Regions from separate parts of the Homo sapiens genome. Here region 1 is linked to region 2. Evidence: fine-mapped expression QTL. A gene starts in region 2. The other region holds a variant in brackets. All regions are shown on one strand. Distances are from middle to middle.

Region 1 (5,368 bases), 150 kb before region 2:
TGTCTCTAAAAAAAATTTTGAAAATTAGCCAAGTGTAGTGGCACATACCTATAGTTCTAGCTACTCGAGAGGCTGAGGTGGGAAGACCACTTGAGTCCAGGAGTTGGAGGCTGCAGTGAGCTATGACTGTGCCACTGCACTTTAGACTGGGCAACAGAGCAAGGCCTTGTCTCAAAAAAAGAAAAAAAGGAGCCTCAATCTCCACAGTCTCCTCGGACCAACCCAACCTGGGAACCATCACTGTATATAATCCACCTCCAACTCCTGTCCCCTACCCAGCTGAGCCGTCAGGGTCCCTCCCTAGCCTGGCAGAAAAGAAAGACCCTCATCCTTAGGTGCTCACCCAGCCGGGACTCCACTGGGTTGATGACATGGGGGAGGCTGTGCATGTCCAAATAGTAGCTGGAGGAAGCTGAGTCAAAGCGGGGATTCACCCCCAACATTGCATAGTAAAGAATCTGTAGAGCAAACAGGGAGTGGTTACTTTGTTTAGATTTATATTCTACTTTCTCCCAAAAAAGATTTGAGGTGCCTTAAAAAAGACACAATCAGGACAAGGCAACATATAAGAGACAAAATCAGGGCTGAGAGAAAATAATTGCAGAAGAAAATAGCAAAGCCAAGGGTAAACTGAATAAACTAAATACGTGCTTTAAAAATCACGTATTTTACCAGGTTTCCTAACAGTCTACACAAAGAGAGAAACAAAGAACAGCATAATTCAGTGTCTACAAGATCAAATCAAGCCAGTTATTCAGAAGCAATTACTCCCACTAGGAAGACCTGATAAAAATTTCTCCCACGTGTTTTCCCTACAAGGAGACAGCGTGATACAGAAAGCTACATTCTTCACATCTTTTTTTTTTGAGATGGAGTCTCACTCTGTTGCCAGGCTGGAGTGCAGTGGCACAATCTTGGCTCACTGCAAACTCCACCTCCCGGGTTCAAGCAATTCTCCTGCCTCAGCCTCCCGAGTAGCTGGGACTAAAGGTACGCGCCACCATGCCCAGCTAATTTTTATCTTTGTAGAGATGGGGTTTCACCATGTTGGCCAGGATGGTCTTGATCTCCTAACCTCGTGATCCGCCTGCCTCAGCCTCCCAAAGTGCTGGGATTACAGGCGTGAGCCGCCGCACCTGGCCCTTCACATCTTTATTGTTACTACAATAACAAATTTCAGGAAGCATTTTTCTAAAAACTAAATTCCTTAAGAATGGCTCTGCTGGGCTCCATCACTCACACCTGTAATCCCAGCACTTTGGGAGGCCAAGGCAGGTGGATCACGAGGTCAAAAGATCGAGACCATCCTGGCCAACGTGGTGAAACCCCATCTCTACTAAAATACAAAAATCAGCTGGGCAAAGATCAAGACCATCCTGGCCAATGTGGTGAAAACCCGTCTCTACTAAAATACAAAAATCAGCTGGGCATGGTGGCACGCACCTGTAATCCCAGCTACTCAGGAGGCTGAGTCAGGAGAATCGCTTGAACCTGGGAGGCGGAGGTTGCAGTGAGCTGGGATCACACCACTGCACTCCAGCCTGGTAATAGAACAAGACTCTGTCTCAAAAAAAAAAAAAAAAAAAAAAAGATGGGTCATGGCATTAACATCTAAGCACAATTGGTGAGTACAGGTCTAGAGGGAGCTATAGGAAGGTGGTTTGTTAACAAGCACTGACAAACTCTCTCAATAGGATGCCAAGGAAGTAAAGACACCAGAATCTGCCCTCAATGGATGGATGGACACAGACAAGGGCACACACGCACCCCCAGTACCCACCCTTATGACACTCACATACATATACACACAGGAAATTCCTAGCAAATCAGCAAGCTCTAAGAGATGGAGGAACAGACTGCACTTGTAAATATGTATAGACATTGAAAAGGACTCCTCAACTTGCTCCCGGTCTCACCTGAGAGTCCACAGAGAAGTTGCCAGCGGCACCGAGGGCATTCAGGAAAGGTTGCACATAGCGCCGGACAGCCCCCTCAATGTCCCAGTAGACATCATGGGACTTGGGGTCTGGGTTGAGTAAACTGAAGGTGATCTCATAGCCTACAGAAACAGGAGTCAGGGAAGTCAGAGGCTCTTGTGGATCAAAGAAGAGGGGCAGCCTGTACTCCCAGCTGAGCTGAACTTGTTTCTCCTCTGGAATGGGGCTGCTTTCCATCATGGAACCAAAAGGAGGACAAAACTGGGATGAGGAACACTGAGTAAGAAAAAGCTGCCGGGCGCTGTGGCTCATGTCTGTAATCCCAGCACTTTGGGAGACTGAGGCAGACGGATCACTTGAGGCCAGCACTTCAAGACCAGCCTGGCCATCATGGAGAAACCCCATCTCTACTGAAAATACAAATATCGGCCGGGTGTGGTGGCTCACGCTGTAATCCCAGCACTTTGGGAGGCCGAGGCAGGCAGATCATTTGAGGTTGGGATTTCAAGACCAGCCTGGTCAACATGGTGAAACCCCGTCTCTACTAAAAATACAAAAATTAGCTAGGCATGGTGGTGGGCGCCTGTAATCCCAACTATTCAGGAGGCTGGGGCAGGGGAATCGCTTGAACCTGGGATGCGGAGGTTGCAGTGAGACAAGATCACGTCACTGCACTCCAGCCTGGACGACAGGAGGCTCCGTCTCAAAAAAAAATAAAATAAAAATAAAAATACAAGAATTAGCCAGACATGGTGGCATGCACCTGTAATCCTACTCAGGAAACTGAGGAGTGAGAATCACTTGAACGTGGGAAGCAGAGGTTGTGGTGAGCCAAGATCACGCCACTGCACTCCAGTCTGGGCAACAGAGCAAGACTCTGTCTCAAAAAATAAAATAAAA[T/A]AAATAGGCCAGGTGTGGTGGCTCACACTTGTAATCCCAGCACTTTGGGAAGCCGAGGCGGGCAGATCACGAGGTCAGGAGATCGAGACCATCCTGGCTAACACAGTGAAACCCCGTCTCTACTAAAAATACAAAAAAATTAGCCAGGAGTGGTGGCGGGCACCTGTGGTCCCAGCTACTTGGGAGGCTGAGGCAGGAGAATGGCGTGAACCCGGGAGGCGGAGCTTGCAGTGAGCCGAGATAGTGCCACTGCACTCAGCCCAGGCAACAGAGTGAGACTCCGTCTCAAAATAAATAACTAAAAAAAATAATAATAATAATAATAACATAAAATAAATAAGAAAAAAATTGAGACTAGAGAAGAAAGGAGAAAGAAGTTGGCATGCAGATTTCCCTCCTGCCCCATGTAATTCATTTCCTCTCCCTTCATGTGGCAGAGCCTGGTGCCCTACCCAAGCTGGACTTGAGAGGCCGCCTCTTCTCAGCGCTCCACTTGTCCTCTGGAAGGTGGTCAGCCAGAGCAGCAGCAAGCACATCCTCAGTCAAAGACATGGCCTGGGCCACCTGGACTATGCGGCGGCCAATGATGTTAAAGGCCTCCCGGTGCATTATCCCCCGCACCACTGCTGTCCTCTTGGGCCCAATGTAGCTCATCATGTCCTGTGGGGGTGAGCAAGAGACAGAATGCCCATGGCTCAGAAAAGAAAGCCAAAAAGCACCCTGGCTCCTACTGTTCCGAATCTGCCCCTTTGCCAATGACCAACAGGTTTGCACCTCTCTTGAGATTCATGAGCTATTAACTCAGCATTTCTGAGCTATGAGTATATATTGAGTATTTTCATTTGTCTCCGTTCTCTTCTTTTTCCCAGTTGACATGGGTCCAGGCAGCATCTAACTCTTCAGGGGCTGGTAAAATGGTGAAATGGAAACTCAGAGATGGCATGCTGAGCAAGAAAAGCGGAATAAACAGACAACTGGAGAGTCTGATATAAAAATGGCACATGGCAAAGAAACAAGTATTCATAATAGCATTATTTCTAACAGTAAAACCTAGAAATAATCCAAATGTCCATTAGCAATAGAATGGGTAAATTATGTTTATGTTTATACAATGATACATAGATTCAACTACATAATTATGGATGATTCTCTCACCAGGCTCTGCCACATGAAGGGAATAAAATAAAAGTGGCAGAGGAACATGTGTTATAAGCCACCATTTATATAAATTCAAAAATGTAAAATTAAATACATTGTTTACAGAGATACAGCATATGTGATCAAACTCTAAGGAAAAGCAAGAAAATTACAAACACAAAATCTGGTTGCCTTGGGCCAAAAGGGAATGGAGTATAACCATGGAAGTACACACCGTGCTACTGCACTGCAGTTTGTGAGCTGGGGGTGGGGATGGGGACGTTCATTAACATTTTCTTTAGTGCTTTTATAAAAATTAAATATTTGATTATAAATTTTCTTTTTGAGACAGAGTCTCACTCTGTCGCCCAGGCTGGAGTGCAGTGGCACTATCTTGGCTCATTGCAACCTCCACCTCCTGGGTTCAAGTGATTCTCCTGCCTCAGCCTCTCGAGTAGCTGGGACTACAGGCACCCACCACCACGCCCGGCTAATTTTTGTATTTTTAGTAGAAATGGGGTTTCACCATGTTGACCAGGCTGGTCTCAAACTCCTGACCTCAAGTGATCCGCCTGCCTCGGCCTCCCAAAGTGCTGGGATTACAGGCATGTGCCACCGCACCCGGCCGATTCTTGTATTGTTAGTAGAGATGGGGAGTGCAATGGCATGATATTAGCTCACTGCAACCTCCACCTCCCAGGCTCAAGCGCTCCCCCTGCCTCAGCCTCCAAAAGTAACAGGGACTACCACATCCAGCTAATTTTTTTTATTTTTTGTAGAGATGGGGTTTTGCCATGTTGCCCAGGCTGGTCTTGAACCCCTGAGTTCAAGCAAACTGCCCGCCTCGGCCTCCCAAAGTGCTGGGATTACAGTGTGAGCCACCAGACCCAGCCAGCATTCTTTATTAAAAATATGTGGAGGACGGGTGCGGTGGCTCACGCCTGTAATCTCAGCACTCTGGGGGGCCAAGGCAGGTAGATCACAAGGTCAGGAGTTCGAGACCAGCCTGACCAACGTGGTGAAACCCCATTTCTACTAAAAATACATTACATGGCACATGCCTGTAATCCCAGGTATTCAGGAGGTTGAGGCAGGAGAATCACTTGAACCCGGGAGGCGGAGGCTGCAGTGAGCCGAGATCCCGCCACTGTACTCCAGCCTAGGCAACAGAGCAAGACTCCGTCTCAAAAAAAAAAAAATTTTTTTTTGGAGAGTTTTCTGTAGCAAATGGAAGAAATGGGTAGCAATGATGCAAGAAGGAGGTGACCCAGGAGTCCACGAGCTGAAGGGATAAGGCAAAGTCGCAGCCTCTCTGTTACCTTACCTGGGGAAGAAGTGAGGAGTGTTCAGATATCACGTACACAGTCAGGGAGCCCTCCGCTTGTTCCTGAGGC
Region 2 (5,368 bases):
GTGGGAGGATTACCTGAGCCCAGGGAGATCGAGGCCGCAGTGAGCCGTGATCACGCCACTGCATTCCAGCCTGGGCAACAGAGTGAGACCCTGTCTCAACTAAAATATATGCCTTTGATTCTAAATCCCCACCACAGCCCCATTCTATGGATGAGAACACAGAAACTCAGAGAGGATAAGTAATTTGTCCAAACATACATTGTTAATAGACTGTAGAAGTAGGATTCAAACCCAGGTCTTCCTGGTTCCATAGCCTATGCTCTTTCAGCCCTGTCTACTTACTGTTGGCTGGGGACACACCCCTGTAAACAAAGGTCATTCTGTATGTGAAGCTCCACAGCCAAGCCTTTTTTTTTGTTTTGTTTTGTTTTTCTTTTGAGAGAGTCTGGCTGTGTCGCCCAGGCTGGAGTGCAGTGGCGGGATCTTGGCTCACTGCAAGCTCCGCCTCCCGGGTTCACGCCATTCTCCTGCCTCAGCCTCCCGAGGAGCTGGGACTACAGACGCCCACCACCATGCCCGGCTAATTTTATGTATTTTTAGTAGAGACGGGGTTTCACCGTGTTAGCCAGGATGGTCTTGATCTCCTGACCTCGTGATCCGCCCGCCTCAGCCTCCCAAAGTGCTGGGATTACAGGCGTGAGCCACCGCACCCGGCCCATAGCCAAGCCTTAAAACCACATTCTGCTTGAGTGAGCCGGCGAGGCAGAGGTTGCAGTGAGCTGAGAGAGCCACAGCACTCCAGCCTGGGCGACAGAGTGAGATTCTGTCTTATAAAATAAATCACGTTCAGCTCCATATGCAAAACCTGTCCTACCAGGCCGGGTGCAGTGGCTCATGCCTGTAATCTCAGAATTTTGAGAGGCCGAGGTGGGCGGATCACTTGAGGTCCGGAGTTTGAGACCAGCATGGTCAACATGGTGAAATCCCTTCTCTAATAAAAATCCAAAAATCGGCCAGGCATGGTGGCACATACCTGTAGTCCCAGCTGCTCTGGAGGCCAAGGCATGAGAATCGCTTGAACCCCAGAAGTGTAGGTTGCAGTGAGCCGATATCGTGCTACTGCACTCCAGTGTGGGCAGCAGAGTGAGACGGCGGGAAGGACAGGTGTTTTTTTGAGGCACAGTCACTTCCTACTGCACCTGCTTTTCAGCTCCAACACTACCAATTCCTCACCCTCTGGTTTTACTCAATCTGGACTCCACAGCCTCCCTTATCCACCCTGGACCCTAAAGTCATGCCGCTGGGACCTCAGCCAGGGTGAGGAACCAAAACTCCTCTGCCTTGCTGTTTCAGGAGCCACCATGAAAGAGACACACATGGCCAGGCGCGGTGGCTCATGCCTGTAATCCCAGTACTTTGGGAGGCCGAGGTGGGCGGATCACGAGGTCAGGAGTTCAAGACCAGCCTGACCAACATGGTGAAACCCCGTCTCTACTAAAAATAAAAAAAAATAAAAAAAATAGCTGGGCGTGGTGGCGCGCGCCTGTAATCCCAGCTACTCAGGAGGCTGAGGCAGGAGAATTGTTTGAACCCGGGAGGTGGAGTTTGCAGTGAGCCGATATTGCGCCACTGCACTCCAGCCTGGGCGACAGAGCGAGATTCCATCTCAAAAAAAAAAAAAAAAAAAAAAAGCACACATGCAGGGTCAGAGCCTGTTTACTCTCCACTCACTAGCTCCCCCAGAGCTCGGACACCCATCAGCTCTGTTTGTGAAGGAGACGAGGGGAGGAAGGACAAAGGGGGAGACGAATTTAGTAACTCTCTTCAGAGCTGAGAAAAGCAATCTGCTCTTTAGTTCCAGAGGACAGGAGGAGACCTCTGACCAGCAGCAGTCCAGAGTTCCTGCAGCAGGAGTGACTGACAACACACACAATGAATGAGGAGGGTGATAGGGTGAAAGAAAGTGGGAGGCTTATGGCGTCTTTCCCCGTGAGGCGTTAATCGGCGCACAAAGGCCTAACTCAAAACTCACAAGTTATGCTCATCTGTACAGAATCCTCCCCGTCCTGCGGGGCCGAGGAGCTCTCCTCGACCTCGAGGCACTGGGGGTGGGCACCAGAGCAGCCGAAAGGAGTAGGGTGGGAAGGGAGGGAAGGAGTAGGGCGGGAAGGGAGGGAAGAAACTAGGAGAGGAAGGAGGGAAGAGGAGGAAGCAAGGGAGGGGCAGTGCGCCCGCGTCTCCTTGGAAATGCCTCTCTGGCCTCGCCGCCGCGGAGGTAATTGTGATGCCACGGGTGGAACCCTCAGTCTCCTTGGTCCACCCTCAGGGTCGATGGAACCGCCCGCTCCCGCCCCGGCGTCCGGGTGGGCGCTGGTCCACGGGCTCCAGCCAAGGCCGGCGCTTCAAGGGCAGCGGCCTGCGCCCGGTGCCACCCAGTCCGATAGCCGAGCGTTCCAGCTCTGGCTGGAACCAGACTTCCCGCCCATCCCGCGGGCGACCCAGCAGGGCCTCAGGACCCCAGTCCTCAATCATTGGCCCGCGGCTCGACGCGAGCCCGCCCCCGGCCCTAGCTCCGCCCCGGCCCTAGCTCCGCCCCGGCCCAGCACTGGGCCCCGCCTCTCTCGTTGGTTTGCCCGTCTCCCTCGTCGGTTTGCCGGCTTCCCGCGTGCGCCGCTCGGGGTCTGCGAGCCGGGCCGCGCCCTCTGCCCAGCCCCTGCCCCGCCCCTCTTACCGCGGCATCTGCTCTCATCCCACGAGCGGGCCTTGGGCTCGGTCTTTTCCTTAGTCCATCTTTCAATTGTGAGCGTCGTCCTGACCCACATCGCTCTCCGCCCAGGTCTTCGTCTCTACAGGACTCTTGCGTGAAGTCCAACCCTGAGCCTCAGCCCGGCCGAGCCCTCGGCCCAGCCGTGAACTCCAGTCTCGGCTTCGCCCCCGCCTAGCCCCTAACCCCGCCTCATGCTGGCGCAGCCCCCGCCGGCCTCCCCAGCCCGGCTCCAGGCTGCGTAGTCTTCCCAGCTGGGTCTCAGCGTCAGCCGCGTTCTTCATCCGGGGCCTCCGGCGCCTCCCAGGCCCCTCTTTATCTCAGACCTTAACCTTACAGGCCCAGCTCTCACCACCCATCTCTGGTTCCAGCTTGCAGTCCAAACCCCAGATTTTCACCCTGCCTCCAGATCGTAGCCCCAATTCTTAGTGTTACAACGAGCCTTGCCCCCAGCCCCATTCTTAGCCCCGCCCCGGCCATTCTCTAAACCGCACACTCCCGTCCCGCTCCCCGCCCCACCGACCCTTGGGAACCCAGCCGCAGCCCCGCCTCTGCCCGCTGGCGAGAGAGCGAACCCCATCTCTACAAAAAATACAAAAATTAGCTAGTTTAGTGGTGCGCACTTGTAGTCCCAGCTACTCGGGAGGCTGAGATGGGAGGATCCCCTGAGCCCAGGGAGGTCCTGGCGTCGCCATTTCCCCTCCACCTTCCGGGCTTCGAGGTCCCTCCGCCTCTGGTGGAGCCCGGGCTTCCCCTTTCTCCGCCCACAGGCCTCTCCGAAGACCTAACTCCGGGCTGAGGACCTGATGTCGGCTCCCAGCCCCTGCGCCACCCCGCAGCGTTCCCGCCCCTGGCCCCCAGGGGACACCCTATTCTAGAGACAATACTGCCCAATAGAGAGTCGTAAGCTTATCCTGATAGACAATCTGGAGAACAGGGCAGGCTGCATTCATAGGAACCTCATCCCAGTGACACCCCTCACGCCCTCAGGTACAACATACACACTCTGCGCATGCATATATCACACACACACAGAATATACTCACCACACACAGACTAATACAACATGCACACGGAACACAGAACTCCCACACCCGGTGCAGCACAAACACCACACCTGGACTGTGGTGCTGGCTTCACACACATCTGTTAACAGGCAAGGCAAGGGTGAGGAGCCCAGTGCTGCGAGGGAACAGAAATGGAAAAAACAATCACAGGAGAGTGTGAAAAGAAGTTATGGCCATATCGACGACATTCCATGCACCACACCCCTCCATTTCTCTTGGCACCAGCTTCCAAAGCCAGGATGAAGAGGAGGAGAAAGGATGGGGTCCACACCTTGTTTTCTCCACCATCATCCAGGGGCTCTGCTGCTGCTACTATTGCTCTGCCTGATCCCCACCTTCACTTTCCTCCAGACCCAAGTCCGGAGTGGGTAGGGCTGCTGCCCAGACCCTCCTTCCCGTGGTAGCTCTAGAGAGTCTAGGAACTGCGAGGGAGGGGAAGCCAGGAGAAGGGAAGTGTGCAGAAAAACCAACCATCCTGGTGAGAATGGAACCAGGAATGGAACAGACAGAGCACTTGGCAACTGGGAGCCAGAATCTGCCTTCTAACTTGGACACCCCCTTAGCCTCCCAGGATGACACGAGGCCATAAGTCCTCCTTTGTTGACCCAGATGTCTGAGGTGCTTCCAGCTACTCTGGAACTCTGGGTTAGATGTCAACAGGGAGCCAGGGTCTTGGTCACCTTTCTTTCTTATAAAAGTTAATGGCATAAACAACCAAAAAAACAAACAAAAAAAAAAAAGAAAGAAAAGTTAATGGTTATAACTCCTGAGTTCAAGCAATTCTCCTGCCTCATCCTCCCAAGTAGCTGGAGTTACAGGCATGCACCACCACGCCCGGCTAATTTTTGTATTTTATTTTATTTATTTTTTTTTATGAGACAGAGTCTCGCTCTGTCACCCAGGCTGGAGTGCAGTGGTGCCATCTCGGCTCACTGCAAGCTCCGCCTGCCAGGTTCAGGCCATTCTCCTGCCTCAGCCTCCCAAGTAGCTGGGACTACAGGCACCAGCCACCACGCCTGGCTAATTTTTTGCATTTTTAGTTTCACCATGTTAGCCAGGATGGTCTCTATCTCCTGACCTCGTGATCCGCCCGCCTCAGCCTCCCAAAGTGCTGGGATTACAGGCATGAGCCACCGCGCCCGGCCTAATTTTTGGATTTTAATGGTGACGCGGGTTTCACCATGTTGGCCAGGCTGGTCTCGAACTCCTGAATCCAAGTGATCTGCCTGCCTTGGCCTCCCAAAGTGCTGAGATTACAGGCACGAGCCACCGCACCCTGCCTGGAAAAGTACTTCTTAAAGGGAAGGCAAGAAAAGGGTGAAAAAAAGAAAAAGATTCTCCAGTGGTGAAAATTTGGGTATAAGCACCAAGTAGGAGGACACGTGTGGGGAAAGGATCAGGGGAAAGGGCTCTCAAAGCCAGCCATTCAGACTTCACCCAGTGAGGGCCCAGTGCAGCCCCCAAACTGATGTTTCAGCTCCCAGCCTACCTGAACCTGCCCAGGGGCCAGGGATGGCCAGCACAGCATCCCCAGGGGACTCTAGTGCCAAAATGGCCACACAGTCATGCCCATTCCACATCCATCATCCCCAACAAA

Which allele goes with the higher level. Positions count from the first base shown, and alleles are read on the strand shown. Sizes are in standard deviations (SD) of each study's normalised expression.
With allele A in place of T in region 1, the expression in sigmoid colon of the gene that starts at base 2,990 in region 2 is lower (moderate effect, 0.58 SD a copy in GTEx).

What was found. PIP is the estimated chance that this variant, and not a neighbour inherited with it, causes the effect. A credible set is the group of variants that fine-mapping cannot tell apart.
Region 1: its variant is the best candidate, but not a certain one, in a credible set for the expression of PROCA1 in sigmoid colon (GTEx, PIP 0.53).

Annotation. Positions count from the first base shown.
Region 1 is chr17:28,558,133-28,563,500 of GRCh38, forward strand. PIGS (phosphatidylinositol glycan anchor biosynthesis class S) reads right to left here. Exons shown (of 12, transcript NM_033198.4): 5 at 5,299-5,368; 6 at 3,290-3,497; 7 at 1,917-2,059; 8 at 344-458. Among named protein-coding and RNA genes, the nearest start is that of UNC119, 8.2 kb to the left of the region's middle. The variant T/A (reference allele first, on the strand shown) is at 2,838.
Region 2 is chr17:28,708,899-28,714,266 of GRCh38, forward strand. It overlaps PROCA1 (protein interacting with cyclin A1), which reads right to left and starts at 2,990. Exons shown (of 5, transcript NM_001366301.1): 1 at 2,672-2,990. The coding sequence starts at 2,762. RefSeq lists enhancers at 1,655-2,430, 2,431-3,206, 3,765-3,844 and a silencer at 2,225-2,724.